Linked DNA regions of Homo sapiens. The protein of the gene in region 1 purifies or fractionates together with the protein of each later gene. This does not show direct contact. Each region holds a gene or a part of one and is shown in the gene's direction. Other genes may lie near its edges. The genes, in order: DDX60, PDCD4, PRRC2C, EIF5B, PRRC2B, SRSF9 and SMARCA1.

Evidence for each region.
Region 2: the proteins of DDX60 (region 1) and PDCD4 purify together in Homo sapiens (affinity purification with mass spectrometry; one large-scale study listed by BioGRID and IntAct). This does not show direct contact.
Region 3: the proteins of DDX60 (region 1) and PRRC2C purify together in Homo sapiens (affinity purification with mass spectrometry; one large-scale study listed by BioGRID and IntAct). This does not show direct contact.
Region 4: the proteins of DDX60 (region 1) and EIF5B purify together in Homo sapiens (affinity purification with mass spectrometry; one large-scale study listed by BioGRID and IntAct). This does not show direct contact.
Region 5: the proteins of DDX60 (region 1) and PRRC2B purify together in Homo sapiens (affinity purification with mass spectrometry; one large-scale study listed by BioGRID and IntAct). This does not show direct contact.
Region 6: the proteins of DDX60 (region 1) and SRSF9 purify together in Homo sapiens (affinity purification with mass spectrometry, with the first as the bait; one large-scale study listed by BioGRID). This does not show direct contact.
Region 7: the proteins of DDX60 (region 1) and SMARCA1 purify together in Homo sapiens (pull-down; one large-scale study listed by IntAct). This does not show direct contact.

What each region holds. Positions count from the first base shown.
Region 1 is NC_000004.12:168,311,773-168,316,275, reverse strand, and holds part of DDX60 (probable ATP-dependent RNA helicase DDX60), read left to right. Parts: intron 1-4,503.
Region 2 is NC_000010.11:110,891,815-110,896,317, forward strand, and holds part of PDCD4 (programmed cell death protein 4), read left to right. Parts: intron 1-2,276; coding exon 2,277-2,384; intron 2,385-2,597; coding exon 2,598-2,708; intron 2,709-4,133; coding exon 4,134-4,273; intron 4,274-4,503. UniProt on the Homo sapiens protein: Inhibits translation initiation and cap-dependent translation. May excert its function by hindering the interaction between EIF4A1 and EIF4G. Inhibits the helicase activity of EIF4A. Modulates the activation of JUN kinase.
Region 3 is NC_000001.11:171,483,425-171,488,700, forward strand, and holds the start of PRRC2C (protein PRRC2C), read left to right. Parts: upstream 1-2,105; 5' UTR 2,106-2,311; intron 2,312-5,276. UniProt on the Homo sapiens protein: Required for efficient formation of stress granules.
Region 4 is NC_000002.12:99,398,490-99,402,211, forward strand, and holds the end of EIF5B (eukaryotic translation initiation factor 5B), read left to right. Parts: intron 1-258; coding exon 259-420; intron 421-817; coding exon 818-925; 3' UTR 926-2,751; downstream 2,752-3,722. Other genes in the region: DNA repair protein REV1, read right to left, coding at 2,752-2,863. UniProt on the Homo sapiens protein: Plays a role in translation initiation.
Region 5 is NC_000009.12:131,480,726-131,485,228, forward strand, and holds part of PRRC2B (protein PRRC2B), read left to right. Parts: intron 1-1,000; coding exon 1,001-1,083; intron 1,084-1,645; coding exon 1,646-1,837; intron 1,838-1,984; coding exon 1,985-2,182; intron 2,183-2,633; coding exon 2,634-2,720; intron 2,721-3,960; coding exon 3,961-4,065; intron 4,066-4,222; coding exon 4,223-4,415; intron 4,416-4,503.
Region 6 is NC_000012.12:120,463,208-120,466,998, reverse strand, and holds part of SRSF9 (serine/arginine-rich splicing factor 9), read left to right. Parts: intron 1-1,211; coding exon 1,212-1,372; intron 1,373-2,876; coding exon 2,877-3,049; intron 3,050-3,249; exon of another isoform or gene 3,250-3,791. UniProt on the Homo sapiens protein: Plays a role in constitutive splicing and can modulate the selection of alternative splice sites. Represses the splicing of MAPT/Tau exon 10.
Region 7 is NC_000023.11:129,446,006-129,449,251, reverse strand, and holds the end of SMARCA1 (SWI/SNF-related matrix-associated actin-dependent regulator of chromatin subfamily A member 1), read left to right. Parts: intron 1-808; coding exon 809-919; coding exon of another isoform or gene 920-943; exon of another isoform or gene 944-950; intron 951-1,950; coding exon of another isoform or gene 1,951-1,956; exon of another isoform or gene 1,957-2,018; coding exon 2,019-2,090; 3' UTR 2,091-2,746; downstream 2,747-3,246.

The sequences.
Region 1 (4,503 bases):
ACATTACTCAGTGTAGAAGCAATCTAGGAATTGCTAGGCTAAGACATGTAGTTCTATGTTGTTAAAATTACTGTTTGAAATAGACTTTTGTAAATTCGAAGTACCATGGGTTCTCTTGTTTTTCTTTATAGCTTCCTTTAACTTTTCTAAATCACACAAAGTTTCATGGTTTTTTGATTGTCTTCATTCTTGATGGGTTTTCCCCAATTTTCTGTATTATCTCTTTAAATAAAATTATCATTTAAGATATATAGTTGGCATTTTGGAAGACAGCGTGGCCATTCCTCAAGGATCTAGAACCAGAAATACTATTCGACCCAGCAATCCCATTACTGGGTATATACCCAAAGGATTATAAATCATTCTACTGTAAAGACACATGCACATGTATGTTGATTGCAGCACTATTTACAATAGCAAAGACTTGGAACCAACCCAAATACCCATTAATGATAGGCTGGATAAAGAAAATGTGGCACATATACCCCATGGAACACTATGCAGCCATAAAAAAGAATGAGTTCGTGTCCTTTGCAGGGACATGAATAAAGCTGGAAGCCATCATTCTCAGCAAACTAACACAGGAACAGAAAACCAAACACCACATGTTCTCACTCATAAGTGGGAGTGGAACAATGAGAGCACATGGACACAGGGAGGGGAACCTCACACACTGGGGCTTGTCGGAGGGTTGGGGGCAAAGGGAGGGAGAGCATTAGGTCAAATACCTAATGCATGAGGTGCTTAAAACCTGGATGACGGGTTGATAGGTGCAGCAAACCACCATGGCACATGTATATCTATGTAACAAACCTGCATGTTCTGCACATGTATTTCAGAACTTAAAATAAAAAAAGGATATATGGTTGGTGAAATTTATGACTTCTTAGAAGTCTAATTACATCTTTTTGCCTCCTCCATGAATTGAATCACTATTTAGATGCAGAATTCTAAGTTCAAATTATTTTCCCTTTAGAAATCTGAAAGTGCTTTATTTTATCAAAACATCCAGGAATGTTGCTTATTTTAATTAATTCTGTGTGCCAGGTATTATTTTAATCAATTCGTATCCATCAGTTCATACATTTAAGTAGCTTGAAAACACAATCAGAGGTGAGTAATATTATTGTTCCAATTTTATAGATAAGTAAATTGAAACTCAGAGATGGTAAATACCTTGTCTAAGCTTATAGAACTATAGTATATTTCAGAACCAAGATTAAAATGCAAGTAGTCGGCCAACAGTGTTCATTTCTTAAACCAGTTCTCATATGGCCTGACTTCCATTTCTTTGTACCTTTTCTGTCTTTCTCTTTATTCTTGGAGCTCTGCAATTTTAACAAGTTGTGCCTAGGCGTAGTTTTCTCTTTTGTCATTATTTCTACTCAGTAGTTAGAGAAACATTTCAATCTAAACACATTATGTTGTTCTTTAGTTCTAGTCTAATATTAGTATATTAGTTTAAGTATATATCTTTGATTATTTTTATCCCCACTCATTTTGGAATCTTAGTTATCTCCTACTAGAAATATTAGTAGGGGGAGAAAGAGCTTATTGACTTATTCCTGGATATTTTAGTATTTTTAGAATTTTTTCATCTCTTTGTCTTTTACTTTTATCCTTTACAAAATTTCCTGGACTTTAACCCTACAGATCACTGACTAAAAATTCCAGCATGCTCATTTTATTGTTCTGCAATGACTTTCTTCCTTGTAAAATTATGTTTTAAATGTGTACGAATACTTGCATGCTTTCTTTTTCTCTTTCTCTCTCTCTAGCAGCCTGTTACTATTTTATGAGAAATATTTTTAATTCTTTGAAAGCAGTAATTAGAAAATTTTGAAGGTCTTTTCTGTCTCTGCATCATGCTTATTCATCTGGTTTCTTATTTTTGCTTTTTTTGTGTGCCTCAAATGTCTATTGGTACTAATTTGTGTGTGTGTGTGTGTGTGTGAGTGTTCAATCATTAGTTACTACAGGTGGCTGGATCTCTAGCATGTCTCTCCCTTAAATGACAGAGAAGTGGGGATAATGACTGTGAATTCTGTTTAGGTGTTAGGGCGTGCATGTGTTGGGGCAGAGGTTAATAGGGTAGCTCTAGTATAGGGTATATAAGAGGAAAGCCTAGGGTGTGTAAGCCTACTTTAGTATAGGGCATGTAAGAGGAAAGCCTATTAGGCTTTACACGCATTGTCTTGCATACCCTGTCCTATGTCATGCAGAGCAACCTGTAGGATCTCAAACTTCCCATAGGCAGGCTACGGAATCCCTTGATTGTCAAATTAAGGAGGGATTGCCCATTAACGCAGTTTTATTTTGTCACCATAGCTATTGCTGAAAGTTTCACAGTGTTTAACGGGCACTCACGTCTCAGTCATAGTTATATTTCATTATAAAAACTATATTATTCCTTTTAATCTATGTATATTATTTCTTAAAACAATTTCTAAGTTGTCAGGACATAAATAGTTATTAATTTGTTTGTATCTAACTACTTAATAAATGAAACGGTTAGCTATTGATTTTGTCCTAGGAGTGGCATAAAAAAATTCCTGAGACTCTAAGAGCATCGTGAACATCTGGGAACCTGTAAATTAACTTATTTCATCTTGTAGAATCTGATGCTATCCTTTCTGAAGTTTTCTGTAATATACTTGGGGTTAATTCTCTCTTGCCTGTTCAGTTCTCACTGACCCATTTTTTTCCATTTGAGCTTGGTACAATTTGGAGAGTTGAAGAAAGATAGTATGGCCAATGCACAGTTAGTGAGGTGGAGGATTGCATGAAATGGGTGACAGAGAGTTTTTTGAAAATACCTAATCTCCTGACCTGGGCACAAGACCCATTATAGTCTGGTTCTAACCTACCTTTCCAATGTCATCTCCAATGAGTCACCCTGTCCTATGCCATGTAGAACAACCCATAGGATCTCAAACTTGTCATGTAGTTTCACAACTTTATGCATTAAACTGATGCTGATTTTGCTACCTGAAAAGTAATTCTCTATATCTCTCACTTTCCCCAACATGCTTTCATAAGTCTTCATCATCTTTTCAACCTGTTCTTGAAACCTCAGAACACAGGACCCTGATCCCTTCATTCTGATTTAGGAACTCCCTCTCAATTCTCTAATGGCTTCCTGTGCCATTTCTGCTAGAACACAGCAAATTAGATGTAGTGTGTCACTTAGTTATCTTTCAACTTACACTGGGTTGTACAAGGAGAGAATCATGCTTCATGCATATTTGCATATGTTTCAGCAAGTACAATGTTTTGTAAAGTGTAGATACTCTATAATCTTTGAAATAAGATAGTAACTGAGTGAGTGAGAGACCATACTTACGCTCGTGTCTCCATTAAGGGTCCCTAAACTCCCCAGCCCACAGTAATTCCATTTTTCTTTAAACTTATTTGTCATTACAGTCATATACTTCCTTGCATTATTATTGTAATATTTAATATCAGCATGTGCATCACCATTATATGTTCCTTACTATCATGGAATAGGAATCTCTCTCTCTCTATCATATCTATCTATCTATCTATCTGTGTATCCATCATCTATATCTATCTATATCAATCAATCTATCTACTATCTATCCATAAATCATGTGTGTATCTACCTATCTGTTTCATAGCCCTAACATATTGAATGGCAAGTGTCTCAATATTTAGTGTCCATGACAAAATGCTCAAGTGCATTTTCATCTACCTCTTTAGTATTTTCTTCTCTATTACCTTTGTGGATTCTTCCTCCTCTCTTGATATATTAAGTATTAGTATCTTCAAATGTGGGTTTTTAGTACTCTTCTCCCATGATGCTGTCTCTCCCTGTCCAAGCAAGCTCATCTACACCAATGGCCTCATTTACCGTTAATACTCAGATGACTTACCTCTTCAAATCTAGTCCAGACTTTGTATTTGTCCTCTAGACTTGTATATTTTACTACTTACATATCATGGCTTATGGGGAATCTTGAAAGCAAGTCAAATTCAGGTGGTTCACAAATGCCGCCATAATCTTTTCCTGACACGTAGCCTTGTTCTAAAATTCCCAGCCCAGGGAATGGCCTAGTCATCCATCCTGTTACTTGAGCTAGAAACTTGTGTCATCCTTGACAACCCCCTTTCCTCTCTTGTCCATCCACATCCAGTCCAGTTCCAAATTATGTCAAGCTCATCTCCTAAATGTCCTTCAAGTGAGTCCACATCTCTCCAGCTTTATTATCTCAGCTACCATCAAACTATATTACATCAAATTATCATCATTACTCTCCTGCACAGTAACTTTCTTTCTGCTCTACTAAGAAGCTTACTCCCATCCTGTTTATTCTCTATATTGTAGCTGGACTAATCTTTTCAAAGTGCAAAGCCAATCACAATACCACCTGCTTAAAATCCATCAGTGGCTAACTTTTCATTCTAGGACGAAAAGAAAATTCTATAACATGACTTCAAAGGCTCTGCATGTCCTTCTATTTCTCTTGTCCTCTCTAGTCTTTT
Region 2 (4,503 bases), on another chromosome or scaffold:
AATTATTAGAAAAATTGAGGTATAAAAATAGTCAAGATGCCAGGGCAATTAGGCAGGAAAGATAAAAGGCATCCAGATTGGAAAGGAGGAGATAAAACTAGTTGTATTCCCAGATAACATGATCTGTATACAGAAAATTTGAATGAATCCACATTTTTTAACTCCCCAAAACTGAAACCAAACTATTAACTAAAAAATGAGTTCAGAAAGGTTGCAAGATAAAAGATCAGTACACAAAATTCAATTCTCTATACAGTAGAAATGAATGATCTGAAATGCAATTATTGCATTTGTGATAGCATCAAAAATAAAATACTTAGGAATAAATTTAACAAGACAAATGCAAGTCTTGTACACTGAAAACTGCAAAACAGGTTGAAAGAAATTAAGGAAGACCTAAATAAATAGAATGATATCCCATGGTTATGGATGAGGATACTTAATATTGTTAAGATGGTAATACTCTCCAAAATTAATATTTTTGGAAACTGGACAAGCTGTTTTATGGTGTGTGAATTCTCTCTCAATAAAGAAAATTGACAAGATAAAAATGGAAATAAAACTGCCAGTATATGAGTTTGAGGTTGACATTATTTGGATATTTGCTTACATGGAAGGGTTGGATCAAAGAAGACTTTTAGAAATGTATAAATGTATTTGTAATTTATCATTCTCAGAAGTGCATGGAATTTGATGGGGGATATTTTTAATACTTCTAAAGTTATGTAACAAATGTTAAAAGTAAGTAATATAATTTGAATAACAAGTACAGTCACGTGCCACATTATGATGTTTTGGTCAGTGATGGACTGTGTGGGATGGTGGTGGTCCCATAAGGTTATAACGGAGCTGAAAAATTCCTATCGTTGAGTGATATGGAGGCAGTTGTAATGTTGTAGCACAGTTACTTTATTTTTTCATAAATTTAATGTAGCCTAAGTATACAGTGTTTATAAAGTGCATAGCCAGTGTATGGGTAATGTCTTAGGCCTTTACATTCACTAACCACTCACTCATTGAATCACCCAGAGTAACTTCCATCCTGAAAGCTCTATTCATATTGAGTGCTCTATACAGGTGTATCATTTTAAAAATCATTTACACTGTTTTTTATTGTACCTTTTCTATGTTTAGATACACAAATACCATTGTGTTCCAATTGCCTATATTATTCAATATAGTGACCTGCTGTACAGATTTGTAGCCTAGGAGCAATAGGCTATACCATATAGCACTGGTGTGTAGTAGGCTATACCATCTAGGTTTTTGTGAGTATACTCTATGATGTTTGCACCATGACAGAGTCATCTAACACACTTTTCAGAATGTATCCCTGTTAAACGATGCATGACTATGCATTAGTTTGTAATTGTAAAAATACTCAAATGCTATGCTTTAAATATTTACTTACATGTAAATATTTAAATACATATTTACTTACATGTAAATATTATATCCTAAAGCATGACAGCAATTAAATTTTACTTTACCTTTTATGAAAATATCTTATAGAAGTTGGAAGGATACTTAAATATGATTTTTTAAATTCAGTCAGCCAACATTCAACATTCAGGCAACTAGATATGTGCCCACCAAATACAAAGGGGATTTTAACAAATAACATATAGGGAAAAATATTCCTAGTTGAAACTCTTGTGCTGAAAAAGTTCTCCCACTTTTTTGAGATGTTCAAGTTTGAGCGGGAAAATCAAGACTTGTCTCTTTAGCTACAGCTGGAAACTGAATTATTGAACATTTTAGATAATGAGTTTCAAATTCTCAGTTGTAGAGAAAAGAGAAACTATGTGGAAATCTTTGCCCTCTCTAGTAATGCCCCATTATCATCTCTCATTTTTTGGCTCTCAGTGCACTATTAAGAGCGTCTTGATAGAAGTGAAATATTTTGTGCCACTTTATGTTGAAACTTTGTTAGTGCCCTCTAGTGGTATTTAAAATCCCTTATTTTTAGTGGCACACTAGAGCATTATGGTCACAACCCAGGACGCATGCATTATAAACCTATTCGTAGTTCTCAGTGATTCAGACACACTGAAGCATTGCATTTGAATCATAATTATGAACCATTTAAAAATTGGGGATTTATTTTTTAATTATGAAAAATTCTGTTGTAATAGTACCACATCCAATGTATATGTTATTAGCTGTTTGTTACCCACTATTTCATTATATTGGAATGAGGGCAAATAATCCTGTAGGCAAGCACGATATTTTAAAAGTTAGGAATTCTGACACATCTCAACTTTTAAATCTAATAGATTGATATGCTGCTGAAAGAATATTTACTCTCTGGAGACATATCTGAAGCTGAACATTGCCTTAAGGAACTGGAAGTACCTCATTTTCACCATGAGCTTGTATATGAAGTAAGATTACCTTGCCATGTCAAAGATAATTATTAAGTGTTCCTTTTTGTACTGTAGCGACTTATGCTTTTTAAATAATGTACATCCTTTTTTTAATATCAAAGGAGGAAGTGGTTATTAAATTTCTACGATTACAGAAGGCATCTAGGTGCATTTTAGGAGCAGTTTCATATATGAATTAACCAAAAATTCACTCATTGATTCAATTTTTAGGCTATTATAATGGTTTTAGAGTCAACTGGAGAAAGTACATTTAAGATGATTTTGGATTTATTAAAGTCCCTTTGGAAGTCTTCTACCATTACTGTAGACCAAATGAAAAGAGTAAGTATAACATTGTTTTTGAACAACTTGTAGGATTATGTCTTAAATATATGATTGAATACAGATTATGAATTGTCAGTGAAATTTTCTTTAGGTATGTTTAGTGTTAATATGCCTATATGTTTTGTTTTTTCTTAATGGTAATGTTTGAGGTTTGAACCTTTTGCAACCATTTTTTGGAAAGTAACACTGCAGTGTTTTTTTTTTTTTTTTTACCTACTTTAACAAATGTAATTATGTATTCTACCTCAAGGGTTCGGTTTCTAAGATGTGACAATTTCTATTTTATATCTAGAGAGAAACATGAACCTTTAACTTTTAACAAATTATAAAGTACTTTTTTCCTATTAAAAATTTTATGATTATTGTTTTAAATGTTTGTGAGGTTTTTGTTTGCCTTGTATTTTTTTAAAAAGGTAGTAAGTGTAAATAGAGAAGTAGATGGGAAAGGAGTTTGCCCAATGTCTGATGTCTGCTTACAGCTCTTTTAAGAGAACAGTATTTAAAAAAAATTTTTTAGCTATGTAACCAGTTTTACTTATTTTTTTATTTATATTTTTAATTTTAGATATCAGAGGGGTATATGTACAGGTTTGTTAGATGGGTGTTTTGTGTGATGCTGAGGTTTGGGCTTCTAATTAATGATCCTGTCCCTCAGGTAGTAAATATAGTACCTGATAGGTAATTTTTCAACTCTTGTCCTCTTTCCTACCTCCCCACTTTTGAAATTCCCAATGTTTATTGTTCCCATCTTCATGTCTGTGTGTACCCAATGTTTAGCTCTCACTTACAAGTGAGACCATGCATTATTTGGTTTTATGTTTGTGATAATTTTCTTAGGATAATGGCCTCCAGCTGCATCCACGTTGCTGCAAAGGACATGATTTTGTTCTTTTTTATGGCTATGTAGCATTCCATGGGCGTATATGTACCACATTTTCTTTGTCTAATCCACCATTGATGGGCACTTGGATTGATGCCATGTCTTTGCTGTTGTGAATAGTACCCGATAAATATACAAATGCAGGTGTCATTTTGGTAGAATGATTTATTTTCCTTTGGGTATACACCCAGTAATGGGATTGTCGGGTTGAACGGTAATTCTATGTTGAGTTCTTTGAGAAATCTCCGAACCACTTTCTACAGGGGCTGAACTAATTTGCATTCCCACCAACAGCGTATAAACCTTCCCTTTTCTCCTCAACCTTGCCAATGTCTGTTATTTCCTGACTCTAATAAAAGAGAACAGTTGTAAAACACTGTAACAAATCTACTTTCTGTGCTTCTCACGATTCAAATCTGACTTCAGTTTAACCATTTGAATATTTGGCCTTAAATACAAATTGATGACATAGTGATGGATTGTGTTTTATGACATTTATTTTATATGGGCTAACAATTCTGCATGTAATTTCATTGTTGTAGGGTTATGAGAGAATTTACAATGAAATTCCGGACATTAATCTGGATGTCCCACATTCATACTCTGTGCTGGAGCGGTTTGTAGAAGAATGTTTTCAGGCTGGAATAATTTCCAAACAACTCAGAGATCTTTGTCCTTCAAGGTACTTTATTTAAATACTACTTTCTCAATGTAAAATAGTGGATGAGATCTTTGGGAAGGTTAACTGCTAAGTTAGTTTATCGTTCCCTGAAGTCACTGAAGAACGTGACTCTTGTGAGTTCATGGAGAAAGAAGGGCGAAGCTTGTTTTAGCCCCCTTGTAAATCTGTACAGGACTGCCTCATGAAGTCCTAGTTTATTTGAAAGAAACTAATCTTGTGGAGCAGGTCCT
Region 3 (5,276 bases), on another chromosome or scaffold:
GAGGCTTTCTGTTTCTGGCAAAAATTAAAAGAAAAAAAGAAAAAAAAAGTATTGGCTTTGCAGTTGTTGAGTGTTCAGGTGTATAAATTAAAGCTCTTAGAAATTAATAATTTAATACATGTCTTTTTTTTTTTTTTTTTTTTTTTGAGACAGAGTCTCGCTCTCTCGCTCTGTTGCCCAGGCTGGAGTGCAGTGGCAGGATCTGTGCTCACTGCAAGCTCCGCCTCCTGGGTTCACGCCATTCTCCTGCTTCAGCCTCCTGAGTAGCTGGGACTACAGGCGCCCGCCACCACGCCCGGCTAATTTTTTTTTGTATTTTTTAGTAGAGACTGGGTTTCACCGTGTTAGCCAGGATGGTCTCGATCTCCTGACCTTGTGATCCGCCCGCCTCGGCCTCCCAAAGTGCTGGGATTACAGGCGTGAGCCACCGCGCCCGGCCATACGTGTCAGTCTTATGACCTTGGTTAATGTAATTTCATCTGATTGCTGAAGTTGTTCTCCATTGCTCAAGACAGATGATTTGGCTGGGCGTGGTGGCTCATGCCGGTAATTCCGGCACTTTGGGAGGCCAATGCGGGAGGCTTGCTTGAGCTCAGGAGTTCGAAACCAGCCCAGTCAACATAGCAAGACCTCGTCTCTACTGGCAAAAAAAAAAAAAAAAAAAAAAAAAAGCCAGGTTTTGTGGCAAGCACCTGTAGTCCCACCTACCTGGGAGGCTGAGACAGGTGGATTGCTTGAGCCTGGGAGGTTGAGGCTTCAGTGACCTGTGATTATGCCACTACACTCCAGCCTGGGCAGCAAAGTGAGACCCTGCCTCCAAAAAAACAAAGAAAGATGTTTCTGTGACCAGGACACTATAGACCAGATCCTAGAAGGTTGTAGAAATTCACTAAAGTAATGCTTCCTTGTCCTCTTGTGGATGATCAGTAGGCTTTCCCCTGGCAATGACCCTATATCAATAAAAAAACTTTTTCTTTTCTTCTTTTCTATTTTTTCGAGAAAGAGTCTCGCTGCAGCCTCAACCTCCTGTGCTCAAGTGATCCTTTTGCCTCCAGCCTCCCAGGTAGCTAGGACTATAAGCATGTGCCACTATGCCTAGCTAGCTTTTTTTCTTTTTAATTTTTTTGCAGAGGTAGGGTCTCACTATGTTGCCCAGATTGGTCTTGAACTCCTGGTCTCAAGCAATCCTTTTGCCTTGACCTACCAAAGTATTAGTATTACAGGCATGAGCCACCAAGCAAGTCCAGACTTTTCTACTTCAAATTAATATTAGTGGGGAGGGAGGTGTTCATAATTTACCTCTCTTTATTATTTCATTTATTCTAACATTGCTACAGTGACAATTCCATGGACATACACCAGCTACTGGCGGGGAAGATCGTTCAGACCAGAAGTGGTAAGAAATCCTTGAATTTTAAATATGTCATAGGTAGTTCACAAAGAGGACAAAAGATACCATTTACTAAACATTCGCCATCTGTTCTGACATAATATTATCATCATTGTAGTCTCCCACTTCCAGATACACTCATCTGCCTATGTTACACTTGCCTAGTAAAAGCCAGCATGGGTGAATCTTACTATTCAACGGAGCTGAACACTGTGATGGAGAGATCATATAAATAAACTGAATGGCTTATCTCACATCCATAATTAGAAACTTAAAAAGTGCTCTCAGCAGCCCATGCTACTCTGTTCCTCACACTAGTTTTACTTTCACTCTCTGTGATAACTTTTCAATACACCAAGACTTCTCAGCTTGCCCCAAATTCACTGAGACATACTGGCGAACTGCTGGTTCAACCATTTACACATCCACCCACCAGACATAAGAGTGCTCATTTCACTGAGGCTTATTATCAACTTGTAAACGTGGTCAATTCAAGACTTCTTAGAAAGGTCTCAGGTCCAAGCTTTGTCCTGAAAAGATAATTCTGATTGCAGAAACTCCCTCCGTCCAGCAGGAAGCGCCAGCACCCTCTGTCGGGGTTGGGCCGCCACGGAGGCTTCACGTGATCCGGCCGTCTCTGCGCAGGAGTGTGGTCTTGCGGAGATTTGACCTACGTACTTAGCGTCATGACGTAGTACGTAGGGGCTGGCTAGCCGCCATCTTGCTTCTTTTTCTCGCTCGCTCGCTCCCCCTCGGAAAGCTGCGAAAGTGCTTTGGCGGTTTGTCCATCCGCAGCTTCGGCTTTTCCAGTCTGGTGGCCCTTCCGGCCACCCCTTTAACCCCAGCTTTCCCTCCCCCTTCTTTCGATCAGAGATCGGCGGAGACCCTCGAAGTGCGCAAACTTGACACTCACCCTGACCGGTAAGGAAAGCGAGGGTGTGGGGGCCGCGATCAAAGAGGGCCCCATCGGGAACGGCCAGAGTGCGGCCTGGGGCGTGGGAGCGCACCCAGACCCTGGCGCCCGGAGGCTAGGGGGCCGCGTGGAGAGGGCCTTGGGTCCGGGCATTTCCCTTCTGTTTGGTTACCATCATCTCTGTGTCTGGGGAAGTCGGCCTCCAGCTTGGGGAGCGGGAAACCGGAGTCAGACCCGCCCCATGTGGTCTGCAGCGGGAGTTCTGGACCGGTCTGTCTTGCTCCCACCTAGACCCCAGTCCTGGCCCTGCGAGGGGATTACGCATGTTGCCGGGTAAGCGAAGGGGGTTTCCGTCTTCCTGGACTGGCGGACGTGAAGTCTTTTTTTTTTTTTTTTTTTTTTAGTGTCGGGTATGCGTTTCCCCAAACAACTGAAGGACTCAGCCGGGGCTTTCACTGTCTACCTCTTCCTGTGTAGTGAGGGTGGGACTTGCAATGAGCAATGTATGGGAGGGTCTGGTTTAAAGACCTGGTTAGATGAGAGGCTCTTCGGGGAATCAAGACCAACCCTACTTCCGCTAGGGAAGTGCTGCCCAACTCCGGAGGAGGATTTGGGTAGTCTTTTCACACTCTAGGCCGCTCCATCCTCTAACTTGCGTGGTGAATCTCGGTAGCTCCCTGTCTTTGAGATAGCGTTGATATTGGTGGTGTCAGGGTAAAGGCCCCGTTTTAGGACTGAAGAAAAGGGCATGGGGCCACTATAGAGACATTGATAGAGTCTTCCTTCCTTTGCATGAGAGGAGTACCTTTAATTTAAAGGGATGTATGTGTGTTTTGACATTATTTGGGATCTTTTGAGGGTCTGACATGCCTGATGTTTGCTGGCTTATAAAGCTACCTGGATTTCCGCATTGGCTGGTTTTCAGCCTGGGTTCATAGATTCATACCTCGTTAGAGTACTTAGAATTGTACAGTAGGCGGCTCTGCTGTAAGATTTTCATTTGGAATGCACCAGAAGAATCGGAGGATTTTTTGATTGTTGAGTACTTAATAGCTTACTCCTGCAAATAAAAATAATAGGGTGATACTAAGCACCTACCAAGCCTAACCCCACCATTTTTCAAAACTAGATTTCACCTCCCATATTGGTAATTAAGATGCTGCTTTGACTGGAGCCATTTTTAGGTGTGTGTCACAGATGCACTGCAGCATCTTTTCTGGCTCACCCCAAATGCATTGATCCCCTAAAAAATTAGGAATAAATTGAACTTGAATTTTGTCTTTAGCATGTAGTCAAATAGTAATTCTCTCCTTTTCTGTAAGTGGATTTTCAGAATATAGCCTTTTTAAGTGATTGTGTTTGCTCTGCTTAGCTTATGTGTGGCTGTTCTCCATTAGGTGACCTTTTGCTATACACTGAGCACAGTAATAAGTCCTTTTCATACATTTTTTTTTTAATCTCCACAACAGACCTTTGAGAAAAGTGCTATTAAGATCATCCCCATTTTACAGATGAGGAAATGAAATCTGAGAGAGTAGTCTGACCAAGGTCACATAGCAGTTATTGGTGGTATTGTGTAGGTTCAATTCCATACTGTCTGAACCCAAAGGGGATGCTCTAAACCTTCAACCTGCTTTTTAAATTATAAACTACAGTAACTAAATAAGATAAAGCATTATTAACTAGTAGTTTTTCTTTAGCTTGACTAGTATATGAATATTGTTGCATGCTAAGGTTAAAGTTTTGAAAGTTGTAAAAATGGAATATATCCACTTTGGACTTGGGGTAGAGGCTAATTTTTTTGTGTCCTTTTCTATTTGAGTGCTTAGAGATAACTTAAAACTAACTCTACCATGTCGTAGATATAATTTTTAAATTTAGGCGTCTGATCTATATTATTGGTAGAATATTCCCTCATCTGTAAAATGGTGATGATAATAGGACTTCCCTCAGAGGCTTTTATAGGAGTAAAAAAAGATAATGGATAATGTATGTAAAGGGCTTATTACTATGCTTAGTGCATAGTAAAAGGTCAACTAATAGTGGAGGGAGAATGGTAGGATATTGGTAGAAGAAAATACTCTCTTCCAAGCAATAAATAATCTGTAAATTCTCAGGGTGATGTATATATTTCTTTAGGTACATAAGAAAATTTCACCTCCCCTTATCCCTGATATGTCTACTTATATGCAGGATTTTGCTTCTTAGCGATTTCTTTATGCTCTACAGTAAATATCCCTGGGATGAGTATCTTGTTCATAGCTGAAAATGCAGAAGTTCTGGCTCATTCCAGCCCCCTCTCTTCTTCTTACCCCCACCCCACCCTCTTTAGTGATAAAATGTCTTTGAAGATTATATTATATCCCTGTCTGCCTCCAAGTGCCACCCCTAAACACTACTTCAGTTTGTTAGTTAGGTAACTTGTGTTTTGGATGCTATTTATGTCATATTTGTAAATGACAAGAATTGATCATTGGTAAAATGTTACATAAGTTAGTACAGAATTGTATTCTTACAGTGAAGGACATACAAAAATTGTGTCTGAGTTATGACACACTTTCATTTCGGTAAATCGTGATTTTGTCACCTTATGAATAGGACAACACAATGAAAGCTTATCTCAGTCTATGTTAATTGTTGCTTACAAGTCTGAGAGTTACTGTGTTAGTTTTATGAGTAATAACATTTTAAATTCCTCGCTAATCTCATCGATGCATGAGCCAGAACACCTTTGTGGATAAAAGCGTTCTATAGAGAGGGTAACTTTAGTAAATTTTCTATTTAAGAGACAGACCTAACTCTGTTGCCCTGGCTGGCCTCCAACTCCTGGGCTCAAGAGAATCTCCTGCCTCAGCCTCCCAGGTAGCTGGGACTAGAAGTGCCTACCATTGCTCCCAGCATTGCCAGTTACATTTCTAGTCCTTATTTTCCTCCAGATTATCAGAAAGCATGTTTTGGGGCCTGTGACTACAT
Region 4 (3,722 bases), on another chromosome or scaffold:
TTGGGTCAACAGGGCACTTGGAATGTTTTGCAAAGCACATTATCTCCTGTCATTCTTACAACCATCATGAAGGGAATAGGGTGTTGGTGGTGCCAGCCTAGTTTACCAAAATGTTACACCGTGAGTGATGAAAGGATCGCACTGCCATGACTTTTAAAACAGGCTTTTGCTCTAGTTCTTACTTCAGCTATCCAGCCATGGCGCCTGTGATTGGCATGAATTCTTCTGCATGCATTTTAATTTGTTCTTATTTTATAGTTTGTTGACATCGGAATAGTAACAAGTATTGAAATAAACCATAAACAAGTGGATGTTGCAAAAAAAGGACAAGAAGTTTGTGTAAAAATAGAACCTATCCCTGGTGAGTCACCCAAAATGTTTGGAAGACATTTTGAAGCTACAGATATTCTTGTTAGTAAGGTAAGTATTTCAGCAAAAGTGGCACACTTTAAGCAACAGGGAATCACTCTTCTTGGGTCACCTGTACCTGTAGCTCCTTGGGCTTCAGTTTGATTGTAGAATCTGATGGGACTGGATCCCCCATTAGGGCTTGACCTCTAGCTGGGCCTTGTCTGTTGAGGAAGTTGCTCTATCAGGAAAGCAGCACCAACAGAGAAAGCTAGGACTTTTAGGTCCCCTCGTGCCTGACATGCAAACCAGATGTGATTTTGGAATTCTACTCCCTTAGGCAGGCAAGCCCTGTTTTTTATTTCTGCTTAAGCTTTTTAGTACAGTGAGAGCGGGCATCTGGGGCCACAGCTTTCTTTGGCACGTTTGTTATGTTCTGTTTACCCTGTTTGTGCCTCGGGCATTGCAGATCAGCCGGCAGTCCATTGATGCACTCAAAGACTGGTTCAGAGATGAAATGCAGAAGAGTGACTGGCAGCTTATTGTGGAGCTGAAGAAAGTATTTGAAATCATCTAATTTTTTCACATGGAGCAGGAACTGGAGTAAATGCAATACTGTGTTGTAATATCCCAACAAAAATCAGACAAAAAATGGAACAGACGTATTTGGACACTGATGGACTTAAGTATGGAAGGAAGAAAAATAGGTGTATAAAATGTTTTCCATGAGAAACCAAGAAACTTACACTGGTTTGACAGTGGTCAGTTACATGTCCCCACAGTTCCAATGTGCCTGTTCACTCACCTCTCCCTTCCCCAACCCTTCTCTACTTGGCTGCTGTTTTAAAGTTTGCCCTTCCCCAAATTTGGATTTTTATTACAGATCTAAAGCTCTTTCGATTTTATACTGATTAAATCAGTACTGCAGTATTTGATTAACCAAGCTTCTGCAGATTTTGTGATTCTTGGGACTTTTTTGACGTAAGAAATACTTCTTTATTTATGCATATTCTTCCCACAGTGATTTTTCCAGCATTCTTCTGCCATATGCCTTTAGGGCTTTTATAAAATAGAAAATTAGGCATTCTGATATTTCTTTAGCTGCTTTGTGTGAAACCATGGTGTAAAAGCACAGCTGGCTGCTTTTTACTGCTTGTGTAGTCACGAGTCCATTGTAATCATCACAATTCTAAACCAAACTACCAATAAAGAAAACAGACATCCACCAGTAAGCAAGCTCTGTTAGGCTTCCATGTTAGTGTAGCTTCTCTCCCACAAGTTGTCCTCCTAGGACAAGAATTATCTTACAAACTAAACTATCATCACACTACCTTGTATGCCAGCACCTGGTAACAGTAGAGATTTTTATACATTAATCTTGATCTGTTTTAATCTTGATCTGTTTTAGTAGAGATTTTTATACATTAATCTTGATCTGTTTTAATCTTGATCTGTTTTGTCCTAGAAAATTCCATCATACACACATTTCCTGATATTTGGGCTTAGTGCTTCTAAATTGTTGCAGACACAAAACTTAATGATTCATTCGTAGTAGTAATCTGTAGCTAGTTTTAGGGTTTTGCTGAAGTCAGTGTGGGGTGTTTGTTTGAGGAAAAAGTTCCAAATATCCACTAGCATAGAATTTTAAACTATTTTTATTTTAAAGTTATGGCATAACATATAACATAAAAATATTTTATATACGTTTGAAAAATCTATACCGTTCTTTTTTATCATCAAAGTTTCTCAATGGCCAGTAGAAGCAAAAAGACAACACCACCTCTGATCTACGGGACATAATGTTCCCAGGAAAAAAATCTTCAAGTGGGTGTGAGGGTGTTTCTAATTCAAAATATGTAGATTTCTCCGCATGGAAGAAGTAGTAAAGATTTTCTTAACATGCTCCTGTGTTCATGCTTGGAGACAAGAATAAGATGGTTTAGAAGCTTTACCCTTTCTTGGAACAAGTAGAATCCCGGTCTGAGACCTCTCAGGAATTTCAGAGCTTAGCAGTCTGGCCTGGAGGTTTTTCAGCCTTTTAGTATAATAAACAGTAGTTGCTTCCTAGAGTTGAGTTTTTAAGGATTCACAAAAAGGAGCCTGTACAAAATATACATACAGTTCTTTATTAAACAACTGTAAACACTTCACTGTAAAAATCCATAAAACTTTATAAACAAACATTTTGTAAATAGAATCTATGCTACAGTAAAATAATTAACACAATTATTTACATGCAATACTGACAAATTTGGCACTTTTTGAAAAGAAATGTACAAAACACTTGCTTTAAAAGAAATTTAAAATTATAAAAACTCCGAGCATTACTATCATGCACTTTGCAAATACCTCACAAGCACTTATGGCACAGCTATCAGAGAGCATCAGGCTCTCTGGTAATATTTATGTAACTTTTAATGTGCTTCCATAAGTTTGTTGTAAAACCACCTGGACATTGTCAAGAATAAAGTCAAATGCCATATTCCAAACCGATTCCACCGATTGCTGCATCAGCCTAAAGGTGGGGAGAGAAGAAATGTCATTAGGAATTAGGAAAGGTCCTTAAGACTAATTATTCCTTTTTATATATAAAAATTGACTTTGGCAAAAAAAAAAAAAAGTCCTGGCCAGGTGCGGTGTGGCTCATGCCTGTAATCCCAGCACTTTGGGAGGCCGAGGAGGGCGGATCACCTGAGGTCAGGAGTTTGAGACCAGCCTGGCCAACATGGTAAAACCCCGTCTCTACAAAAAATAGAAAAATTAGGTGGGCATGGTGGCACATGCCTATAATCCCAGCTACCCGGGAGGCTGAGGCAGGAGAGTCACTGGAACCCAGGAGGCAGAGGCTGCAGTAAGCCAAGATCCTGCCACTGCACTCCAGCCTGGGCGACAGAGTGAGACTCCATCTCAAAAAAAATAAAATCCTAGAACACTCAAATTTTTTTTTATTTTGTTTTGAGACAAGCTGTCGATCAGGCTGGAGCCATGCAGTGGTGCAATCATGGTTCACCGCAGCCTCCACCTCCCAAGTAACTGGGACCACAGGTGGGCACCACCACCCCCCCAGATTATTTATTTTTTGTATTTTTCAGTAGAGATGGGGTTATGCCATTTTGGCCAGGCTGGTCTCAAACGATCCACCCACCCCAGCCTCCCGAAGTGAAGTACAGGCGTGAGCCACTGTGCCCAGCCCACTTCCTATGGTTTTTTAATCACATGTAAGACCTTGAGGGCAACATATTTGGAACCTTATTTGCTACTTAGTCAACATGGCAAAATAAAGGATATCACTTTCTCATTAACCCTAATGAGTACAGTTTCCCAGAAAGTTTAAAACAACTCAGTACACCCTCAGCCATTGTGACATGCCATTT
Region 5 (4,503 bases), on another chromosome or scaffold:
CAGATATGTGCCCCCACCCCCTGCTAGCATGTCAACTTTTGCATGCATATCTATTTTTCTGGGCTCCGGATCCATGGCCATTCAAAAAGTGGTCTGTGAGCTTAAAAATTTTTAGTAATACCCGCTGGGATCTTTCAAAGACTCTGTAGAAGCCACCAACTTTGGCCAGGAGTGGTGGCTCACACCTATAATCCCAGCAGTTTGGGAGGCCAAGGCTTGAAGATCACTTGAGATCAGGAGTTCAAGACCAGCAACAGAGTGAGACCCTGTCTCTATTGTTTAAAAAAAAAAGAAGGCCAGGCCTGGTGGCTCACGTCTGTAATCCCACCACTTTGGGAGGCTGAGGCAGGCAGATCACCAGGTCAGGAGATCGAGACCATCCTGGCTAACATGGTGAAACCCCGTCGCTCCTAAAAATACAACAACAACAAAAAATTAGCCGGGCGTGGTGGCGGGCACCTATAGTCCCAGCTATTCGGGAGGCTGAGGCAGGAGAATGGCGTGAACCCGGGAGGCAGAGCTTGGCAGTGAGTGGAGATCGCGCCACTGCACTCCAGCCTGGGCGACAGAGCAAGACTCCGTCTCCAAAAAAAAAAAAAAAAAAAAAGAAAGATATATTTTTTAATGTAAAAAAAGAGAAGCTACCAACTTTTAGAAATAGTATAAGTGAAAAGAAGCATGAGCATAGCGGAAATAACGACAGAGAATCCAGATTGGCAGGAGTGAGGGCTCTGCCCTGCTCACTCTCTCCTGTAATCCATGAGATGTTGAGAAACACGTTGGGTGAGGATGTGGAAAGTTGGGTAAGGCTGTCAGACCAGCTCTTCCACGTCAGAGCCGTTCACTGGGTGTCACGGGTAGGGGGCTGGGGTGGCGGGTGCAGGGGAGGCAGGGGAGTTGGATTTCTGCAAGCTGTGCCTGTGCTTGTTCTTTAAGAGCTCATAAACTCTCTAGACGGGTTGCTCTTTGATGCCCTGACTCTGTCTTCCTCCCCTGGCAGCTCTCCCTGTGCAGGCCCCAGCCAACGACTCCTGGAGGAAAGCTGTCACTGCCTTCAGCAGCACCGAGACTGGCTCTGCGGAGGTGAGTGTGGCCGCTGCCCACATGCTGCCCCTGGGATGAGTGTGTGAGTGTGTGCTCACCATCCACACGGCCAGCTTGCTGTGGCCCACCCAAGCCCCTGCCACAGCAGCTGAGCTTGGAATTAGGTTGTTTCCATGGGGCCAAGCTCATCAGTGGTTTTCCATCTTGATTTCTGGCCTGTGCATGGGGCGTGCATGAGCAGGAGAAAGAGAAAAGGGGTAACAAGGGAGGACCCAACGCTGGGTGGGAAGAGGGATTCAGGGCCTCCTCTGAACTGGTGTCAGCAGCCACGTAGTCTGGTTTGGGTCACAAGTGAGATGGGTTTGGCAGCCTCGGTCTGGGGCCCATAGAAGATCCTGTGGTCACGAGCTCTATCGGGGTTGGTGTGTTTGGCCACACGTAAGTTGTCAGGCATCCTCAGCAGGGCAGGATCAAGATCAGGACCAGACTTGGCAAGGGACAGGCAGCTGGGGTAGAAAAGTCTCTGTGCCACATGCAGTTTTACTCTCTGGATAATCGAGTTGGGAGTTTGAGGCTATAACCCATTTTGTGCTCTGCACAGCAGGGTTTTAAGAGCAGCCAGGGAGATAGTGGCGTTGACTTGAGTGCCGAGTCTCGGGAGTCGTCTGCGACCTCCTCGCAGCGCAGCTCCCCATATGGGACTCTGAAGCCAGAGGAGATGAGCGGGCCCGGCCTGGCGGAACCCAAGGCCGACAGCCACAAGGAGCAGGCTCCAAAGCCATCTGAGCAGAAGGTAACCTGGACGTTCCAGTCACAGTGGCCAGGGCCTGGGTGGAAGGGGCCATCGTCTCATCATCTTCCTCAATTCCTGGGACAGTAGAAGCTAGAGAGTGTGGTCATTCCAGTCTGTGTGTCTCCACCTCTCTGCTTTTTTATCAAGGATTCAGAACAAGGCTCTGGACAGAGCAAGGAGCACAGACCAGGACCCATCGGCAACGAGCGTTCTCTGAAAAACAGAAAGGGCTCGGAGGGGGCCGAGCGGCTGCAAGGGGCTGTCGTCCCGCCTGTTAACGGGGTGGAGATTCACGTGGACTCCGTGCTGCCTGTGCCACCCATTGAATTTGGAGTCAGTCCAAAAGTGAGGCTTTGATTTGTTTTCTTGCTTGCTTTTTTTACTTTTTATTTTGGTACTTGGAGAGGCTGGGGGCTCAGATGGGATTGTCTCCTAGAAGGAATAGAAGGATGGGAGCCAAGCAGTCTTCCAGCGGCTAGAGTGTTGGTGTGGAGTCCTGCACATGGCCAGTGCTCTGTTGAGTTGCTTTAAAGATTGCTTCACTGACACCAGACAGGCCAGTGATCTTCCCTGTTTCTGTCAGGCCACCCAAGGGACAGGGAGAAAGAAGTGAGGCTGGCGTCCTGTCTCCTGTGCCGTGGGGAAAATCTGGCCATCTCGCTCATATGTGGCTCCAGTGAATGCTGCTCAGTGGAGTTTTTGAGTCGGGGAAACTGCATCACGTTAATGTATGCCTCTGGGGAATGTAGGGCCAGGAGGATCTCAGTGGGCTGTGTGGCCTTTTTTATTTTTTCAGGACTCCGATTTCAGCTTGCCACCTGGTTCTGCCTCTGGTCCTACTGGGAGTCCAGTTGTTAAACTTCAGGATGCCTTGGCCAGTAATGTAAGTCCACACTTCCACTTTTGGCTCCACTCACTGCTTGGGGCTGGCAGGCCCTGGGTGAAGGAGACAGCACATGTATTTCAGGCTGACCTGGGCTGGCACGTGACTCAGTTGCTAGCAGCTCCATGTCCTTAAAAGGTGCTTAAATGTTCCTGCCCAGGTTTTGTGACCTTCCAGTGGGGATCATACAGTTCCTAAGGGCTGGTTTATTTGGCTCTCTTTGGTTCCATTGTCTCCTCTGTGCCAGGTGCGAGCCCAGACTCAGGCTGCCTTTTCTGTGGCCAGGGGTAAGGGGCACAGATTGAGTAGGAGAGCCCTCCTCAGGAGGCCCCATCTCACCATCCAAGGGTCCCTGCCGCCTGCAATCTAACTGTTGTGATCCAGAAGACCTGCTGGCGCTCTACCATGGGCTCAGGAGCTGGCAGTTGCATCTGTTGTGGCCACTCGGGGCTGCAGCTGAGGCTGTCGCAGTGACATCTGGTTCACTGCTCTGTCCTCACCACCTGCAGGGGTGGGTGCTAGTGCATATGCTGAATGAACGAGTATCATTTGGGCAGCGTTTCCCAGAGGATTCCAAGGAATGTGAGTGCTGTACAATATTCATAGGTGTTGAATGAAAACAATGTTTTGGAAGTGCTGGGCTCTACGAGGTTCTTTACTCGAGAGTCTGCGGTCTCTGTCACATGCAGATGGACACCGGGGATCTGCAGGAAGCGGGGGCACTGTTGCATTTCCAGCCTCTGTTACCAGAGCCCTCTTTTTCAGTTTGCTGAGGGGCACAGCCTTCCCTGTCTGGCCCAGGGCATCTCCAGGCCAGGTGGCAGGTGCCTTCTGAACCAGATGTTTGTGTGCGGGCTGCCAGTCCATATTTATACTGCCGGGACATGGCTCTCCCTGTCTGGAGGGCACTATGGAGTGTGGATATGGGGGTGGCTCTCTGCAGACTTGTGTGGAGGAAACTGATGGAGGCAGCCATCTCCAGGAGATCAGTCATGGTCCTGGCTGCCATCAGTTTCATCTGGGTGGTCTTGGGTACATGTGGCCAATACTGAAGATGCATTTGGACAATTCATAGACACGGAGCTGTAGGTGCTTTTGGGAAAAGCCATGGATGGGTTTGGGCAAGTCATAGATACATTTGGACGAGCCTTGAGTGTGTTCAGGAGAGCCATGGATGGGTTTGGGCAAAGCCATCTCTGCACCTGTTTGTGTTCCATGGTTTCCTTTTCCTCCTCTCCAGGCAGGGTTAACACAGAGTATCCCCATCCTGCGGCGGGACCATCACATCCAGAGGGCCATCGGTCTCTCCCCAATGTCCTTCCCCACCGCCGACCTTACTCTGAAGGTAACACCAGCCCTGAGCTGGGTGAGGGCCCACCCAGTACCTTAGCTTACAAAGAGGCAGAAGGGAGGAGTCCCCGAACCCCTAAAGCTTAGATTGGCTCTGTCCACTGCCAGCGTGATAGTAATTTTCATCCCTCCCCCTCCCCTTGCTTCTGAAGATGGAGTCTGCGCGCAAGGCTTGGGAAAACTCCCCCAGTTTGCCGGAGCAGAGCTCTCCAGGCGGCGCTGGCTCAGGCATCCAGCCTCCATCCTCTGTGGGTGCCTCCAGCGGGGTCAACTACAGCTCCTTCGGTGGAGTGTCCATGCCACCCATGCCTGTGGCCTCTGTAGCACCTTCTGCTTCTATGCCAGGTATCTCATCCCCTGAGCAAGGCCTTGGGGTCCTTCTCCATTTATTATCAAGAAAAACGGATTAACAGCCCCGAATGTCACCTCCTGG
Region 6 (3,791 bases), on another chromosome or scaffold:
ACTGGAGAATCAACGTGGCATTCCTGACTCTCCTAGAGTCCTAGGAAAGACTTAAAGTAATTTTATTGAATATTTATCTCTTTTGGCAAAATTGTATCCAAAGAATGTTTTTTGACAAAAATAGTTCTCCAAACCATGCTGAAAAGGTACACTTAGAGTTCCAAGGCCAGGCGCAGTGGCTTATGCCTGTAATCCTAGCACTTTGGGAGACTGAGGGGAAGGATCGCCTGAGCCCAGGAGTTCAAGACCAGGCTGGCCAGCAGAGGGAGACCTGTCTCTACAAAAAATCCAAAAATTAGCTGGGTGCAGTGGTACACGCCTGTGGCCCTAGCTATTCAGGAGGCTGAGGTGGGAGGATTGCTTGCGCCCAAGAGTTAGAAGCTGCTGTGAGTTATGCTCCAGCCACTGCACTCAGCCTTGGTGACAGAGCAAGACCCCGTTTCAAAAAAAAAAAAAGTTCCACATTCATCACAAAACACTCATTTGCATTTTTCTTTTGTCCTTTGAGCCTTATTTATTTATTTTTTTAAAAGACCGGGTCTCACTATATTACCCAGGCTGGCCTGACCTGGGCTCAAACATCATGCCCAGCTACTTTATTTACCCTCAAATACTCTCCTATCTAACTGGCTACTTTTTTTTTCCTGTTTTTTGGGACAGGGTCTCTGTCACCCAGGCTGGAGTACAGTAGTGTGATCTTGGCTCTGCACTCCCATCTCAGCCTCTCAAGTAGCTGGGACTACAGGCGTGCAACACCATGCCTGGCTAACCGCCTACTTTTTATTTCCATAGACTTTATGGCACTAGGCTTTGTAGAAAAATATTAAGGGGTTAGTGTGTGGTGTGCTTTTCGAGAAAATGCTCACGAAGATTAGAAAAACACTGATGGTTTATTGGCAAAATCAATAATCTGTCAGCAGTTGATTCTTTTTTTTCTCTGAATTAGCCCTCTTATGAGTAATCTGTTTGCTCATTCATTATAATTTCATACCTCTAAAACTGCGTGTGACAGCTGTAAAGGTTAATTCCAGTATCATGAAACGTCTCCAAACCAAAGCAGAAGTGCTTCAGGATCCTGATTTGTGTGTTTTTTTCTTCACTCTAGGTTTCCCTTTTATGCTTACTACTCATGCCCCTCACTTGGAAAGTCACTTGGCCTCCTGAACAGCACTAACTCCAAACGTTTTTTTTGTTGTTGTTGTTTTTTTTAGAGATGCAGAGGATGCTATTTATGGAAGAAATGGTTATGATTATGGCCAGTGTCGGCTTCGTGTGGAGTTCCCCAGGACTTATGGAGGTCGGGGTGGGTGGCCCCGTGGTGGGAGGAATGGGCCTCCTACAAGAAGATCTGATTTCCGAGTTCTTGTTTCAGGTATGTTCCTTTCAAACAGAATGAGATGATACATGTAAAATACTTAACACAGAGTCTGTCTTCCAAGAAATGATAGCTGTTATTCTTCAGTGCATGGGACACGGGGGCTTTCTTTTCAATAGCCTGTGTGAAGCCTTGCCCTGGATTGCCAATGAGGAAAGTATCCTGCAAATGAAATTGCGCTGGGAGTGCAGCCTTGGAAGAACATAACCATATTTCTTGTAAAGGAGTTTTCTAGTGGTGAGAAGGAAAGATGATGGGAAAACTTGAGCTACAATTCTAAAGATGCTTCTTTTGGAATATACTTGGCATCAGACATGGTAGAAAGGCATTCAAGGAGCCAGATTTGAACAACTTACCCAGCCTTGGATCCTGAAGAAGATCAGATTTTGTGGTGGTTTTAGAATTAAATATTTTTTAAAACCCCGTAACTTAAGAGTCTTAGAGATTTTATTGGAAAGTATAGACTATTTCTGTCTAGTGTTTATAAGTGATGAAATGCTAAACTGGGAGGTTTATCTATCTTCAAAATATTAACACACTGGAAAGACCTGGGGCCTTCTGCATATTGCATGGGAGTTTTAGGGCCCTGGTGGAATGAAATAAATCGAGGAGCCTGGCACCTTTTTAAGATGTGAATGTCACACAATCACAGCATACTCCCATGTGCTTAAGAGTGATACTCTCAGTATCTGCCTATCTTGTGTCCCTTTGTAATTTTTTAACCCCAGAACTCTATTCCCTCCTTCAGGATGTCATACATTATCTTTTTTTCTCTCCATGCTGCTCTGAAATCCTGCTTAGAAAACTATTAGGAAATGGCTGCAGTCCTGAGCTGTGAGCGGTAAACACAGCCTTTGAGAGCAGGAGCACATTTCCCTTTCATGACATCAGGTAGGGTTGTATGACTCCCGACTAGTTTTAGCATCTGAGTCTTACCTTCCCCCCCACTGTATTGAAGAATGTTGGTGATCTTTTAAGAGGTACTCTGTATAGTTTGTCATTCATACCTACAAGAAAACAAACTTTAGATTTTTTGTTGTTGTGTTGTTACCTTCAGCTACTCTTTGGTTATTTCATGTCTGGTTTCAAAATTCCCATGTCCTGTGAAACCCTGTCAAGCAATAAATAATTGGTACTGTTAAATTTCATAATGGAAAAAATTGGAACTCAAAGTATTAGGAGTTTGGCATTGATTTTAAAGGACAAAGAAAGAGGCTATGAATTCTCAAAGATACTAAACCTGTAATGGGATGGACTTCTTGCTCTGTTGAAAAGGCCTGGTCTCTGGAAGATGAACTTAAAACCAGCTTCTCAAGGTGGTTCATTTACCACACATACTTCAGTGCTCTTTTCTGATTTCATGTCCCTTATCAAGGTTTATGATTTGGGGACCCTCAGGATTTAAGTGATCATGGAGAAAGGACCATAGGTATTGCTGGCTCTTAACAGGGCAGTTAACATAGCTGAAGGATGTGGGCTTTCTTATGTTCTCCATGCCTAGGACTTCCTCCGTCAGGCAGCTGGCAGGACCTGAAGGATCACATGCGAGAAGCTGGGGATGTCTGTTATGCTGATGTGCAGAAGGATGGAGTGGGGATGGTCGAGTATCTCAGAAAAGAAGACATGGAATATGCCCTGCGTAAACTGGATGACACCAAATTCCGCTCTCATGAGGTGGGTCCTTGCCTTCTGTTGAGGAGCTTGTACTCAAATCACTCCACTTGAACCTGACCTAGCAGAGGTAGCAAGAGGCCATGCCATTTGGTAACCTCACAGTACCATAAGAGATCTATCTTAGGTGGACAAAGCCATGGAATTTGCTATGCCTAAGTCCTTCAGGGTCATAGCTGAAAGAAGTATGCATTCATGGTACGTTTGTTTTTTAATATGCTTTATTCTGCATATTAGTATCACATTACACAGTTTGGTCATGGTATTTGTAACCTGGAGAGAATACTAGTGCAGTCGGTCTTCATACCACCCCATTCACAACCAGCTTAAATGGCAGTATCCCTCTGTGAACTCAACTACCCCTCCTGTGGGTCCAGGCTGAGCTCTACAGGTCAGCCTCTTCATCTCAGCCCTTCTAGGTCCTGCTGTCAGGGCTGAGCTGTCACTTCACTTTTTTCCCAGAGTAGTGCAGCATCCTCTCTGAAACCTGAGCTATCATGACATTTTCTTTTTTAATTTTATAATTTTTATATTTCTCTAATTTTTGATTTTAGAGACAGTCTCATTATATTGCCGAGGCTGACCTTGAACTCCTGGGCCCAAGCAGTCCTCCCACCTCAGCCTCTCCAGTAGTTGGGACTGCAGGCATGCACCACTGTGCCAGGCTAAACCGTAACATTTTCTTGTGGTTGATTATGTCACCCTTCAGACTCAGTAGTTCTTGATGTCTTTCCTTGTAGGAAAG
Region 7 (3,246 bases), on another chromosome or scaffold:
GTACTTCCAAAACTTATTTTGACCATAGAACATCCCCTTATTTTTTTTTGTTTATGTGATTTATGTTAACTTTTTATTTTGAAATAAGAAAATTCACAAAAAGTTGTAAAGAAAATGTACAGGGAGGTCTCATGCACCCTTCACCCAGTTTTCCCCAATAGTAACATTTTGCAAAACTATAGTAAAATATCACAACCAGGAAATTGACATTCGTGTAATCTATAGAGCTTGTTCAGATTTCATCAGTTATACATGCGCTCGTGTGTGTGTGTGTGTGTGTGTGTGCAGTTCAATGCAGTTTTGTCATGTGTAGAGTTGTGTAACCTCCACCACCATAAGACTCCATTGTGCTATCTCTTTACAGTCACACCTACCCTCTCTCCTCTCCCTAGCTCCCGGCAACCATTGATCTGTTCTCTCTTTCTATAATTTTGTCATTTAAGGATGTTATATAAATGGAATAATATGGTATGTAACCTTTCGAAATTAGCTTTTTTTTTTTACTTAGCATAATTCCCTTGAGGTTCATTCAGATTGTTAACTGTATTAATAGTTCTTTCCTTTTTATTGCTGAGTAATATTATATGATATGGATGTATCATGGTTTGTTTAACCAGTCATCCATAAATGACATTTACCCCCACTCCTAATTCTGGTGGAATCTATTAATACCCTGTGTGAATATTGTCCTGAAAAATAGCAGTTTTGGAAATTCTATACCACAGAAATCATACAGTTAAATAGTTGTCAGCGTTTTAAAGATAATGATTGGGTTGCAGAAATTAAAAATCTTTATTACTTCATTTAGGAATTCCAGAGACGCTGTAACACTCTGATTTCATTGATTGAGAAAGAAAATATGGAAATTGAGGAAAGAGAGAGAGCAGAAAAGAAGAAACGGGCAACTAAAACTCCAATGGTAAAATTTTCAGCATTTTCCTAACTTTTAGGTAGATCCCATTTTTTTACATAATTAAAATGCCTATATTATGTTTAATGCCATAGTGATAGCTATTAATAAAAGCTGGTTTTATGAAATGCTAATTTGTTTTGGACAGAAGAAGAATTGCTTCACAACCATGTTTCTTATTTGTTTGTAGAACATATGGTTAGGAACTCCCTAGTAACTAGGCTCAGTATTTTAAAAAATTCCTCATGAATCTAAACAGAAGTATAATGCAAGTGAAATCTTTTGAATTGAGACTAGAGCTATCATGGGGGTAGCAGAGGGGTAGGGGTGGGATGGGATGGGGCTGAAGTTGAAACTAGGAGTTCTGATTTGATCAAGTAAGTTTTCTGATGTTTGTGGAATTATGAGTACAAATGGGAACTCTGAGCAGACAACAAAGCTTTGCTTGGTAATAAGTGAACTGTTGAATTGATAGGATAACTTGATTTTAATCCAGTCAGGTTGCTTTGTACAGCTGTAATTTAAAATATTCTTTAATAGATCGTATTATTTGAGTGTGGTTAAGTAAACTGCCATATTTCATCGAATCTAAGATGCCTTCCATTGTAAGACACAGCATTATTTTATGTACCACTGAGGGAAAATGCTGCCAGGTGTAATTTGTCATCAGTTGTAAGTTGCATCCTGATTTCAGAGATGCTAAAATGTGAAAGAAATGTGTATCATAGAAGATATGAAATATGGTATGTTAAAACCTATCATAAGTTTTTTAAAAAATATATACTCATAAACAAAATTTTGCCCAGAAAACATTAAGTAGTTCTTTAAGATAAGAGTACATTTATAATACCATGTGTAAGTAGATACTTGATGACTATTTTTGATGGGTATTTTATGTCTTTTCATAAAAAGAAACATCTTTGAAGGTTATTTTACATTGGGTTATATAGTTTGTTGGGCTATATAGAACATTAACTGTGAATATAACATTTAAGTGAATATTCATGTTAAAATTTTTTTTTAATGCATTTACATCCTAGATTTAACATTGTTGGGCCATTTAAAATGTGCATATTGGAGCAGAACATTAAATCTGTTTCCATTTTAGTCACAGAAAAGAAAAGCAGAGTCAGCTACTGAGAGCTCTGGAAAGAAGGATGTCAAGAAGGTGAAATCCTAAAGCCTAGAAATAAAGTTTTAAATGGGAAACTGCTATTTTCTTGTTCCCATCTTCAAATGCTAATTGCCAGTTCCAGTGTATTCATGGTACTCTAAGAAAAATCTCTTTGGTTTTGATTTCTTGCATATTTTATATATTTTACAATGCTTTCTACCTGAAATGTGTAGCTTTATATTTTATGGCATTCTAGTATTTTTGTGTACTGTATTTTGTGCATTTCATGTCTTCATCAAAATCCTCTCAGTCCTTGTTCTTTTGAAGCTTGTGCTGAGGTTTTAGCTTTTCTATGTTTTATATGCCGCTGCTTTGAAAGAGAACCTAGATTCTATAGTTGTATTATTGTTGTTTCATACTTTAAATTTATATGGCTGTGGAAAAACGAATTAAAATGTTTTGAGGAGAAAGACTTTTTCACTTCTTTGTTGCTTTCTTTTCTATTGAGTCTGGGCTTGTTTGTGTTACTGCATACTGTGATTAGCATAATAATTGTTTCTTTGAGGTCATCTAAATATTTTTTTCCTAAAGGAATAAAGGGTGAGGAAAGAAAAATATTAAAAAAGCTAATATTTGATACTGTGCTTGCTGTCAGTATGCATTACATTTAAATTATTCTCTATTCAAGTGGGAAAATATAATAAAGAAATGTCTATAAGAAATTTAATTATTTCCTGTTTTTTTGTGCAGTAGAAAGTAGTTGTGTTTACTGAATTGTATTGCTTACTACTGTGTATTTGGTTCAAAGTTAAAGCTTTGCTTGCTGACTTGTGTGTGATCTTCTGTCCCATAGAGCCAGTTCAGAAGGGCCTGGGTGTAACATGTAGAATTATTAACAATTAAGTTTAGAGTATGAAATAAGCACTATGTATGCAGAAGAAGGGGGGCTGTGTTTGTCAGGAATACAGTTATGCTCAGGTAACAATCTCAAAGTGTCAGAGGTTTTACACACCAAGAGTTTTTTTTTCTTGCTCACACTACATATCTCATGCAGGTCAGAGGGATGTGGGAATGGGAAGGGATCTGCTCCACACGGTAACTCAAGGTTCCAGGATGACTAAGGCTCTGCTATTTTGTGGCTGCAACATCTGGAACATGTGGCACTTAGGCTCTTTACTGCCTCGGCCTAGAAGTGACACATGTCACATCCACTTATATTTCA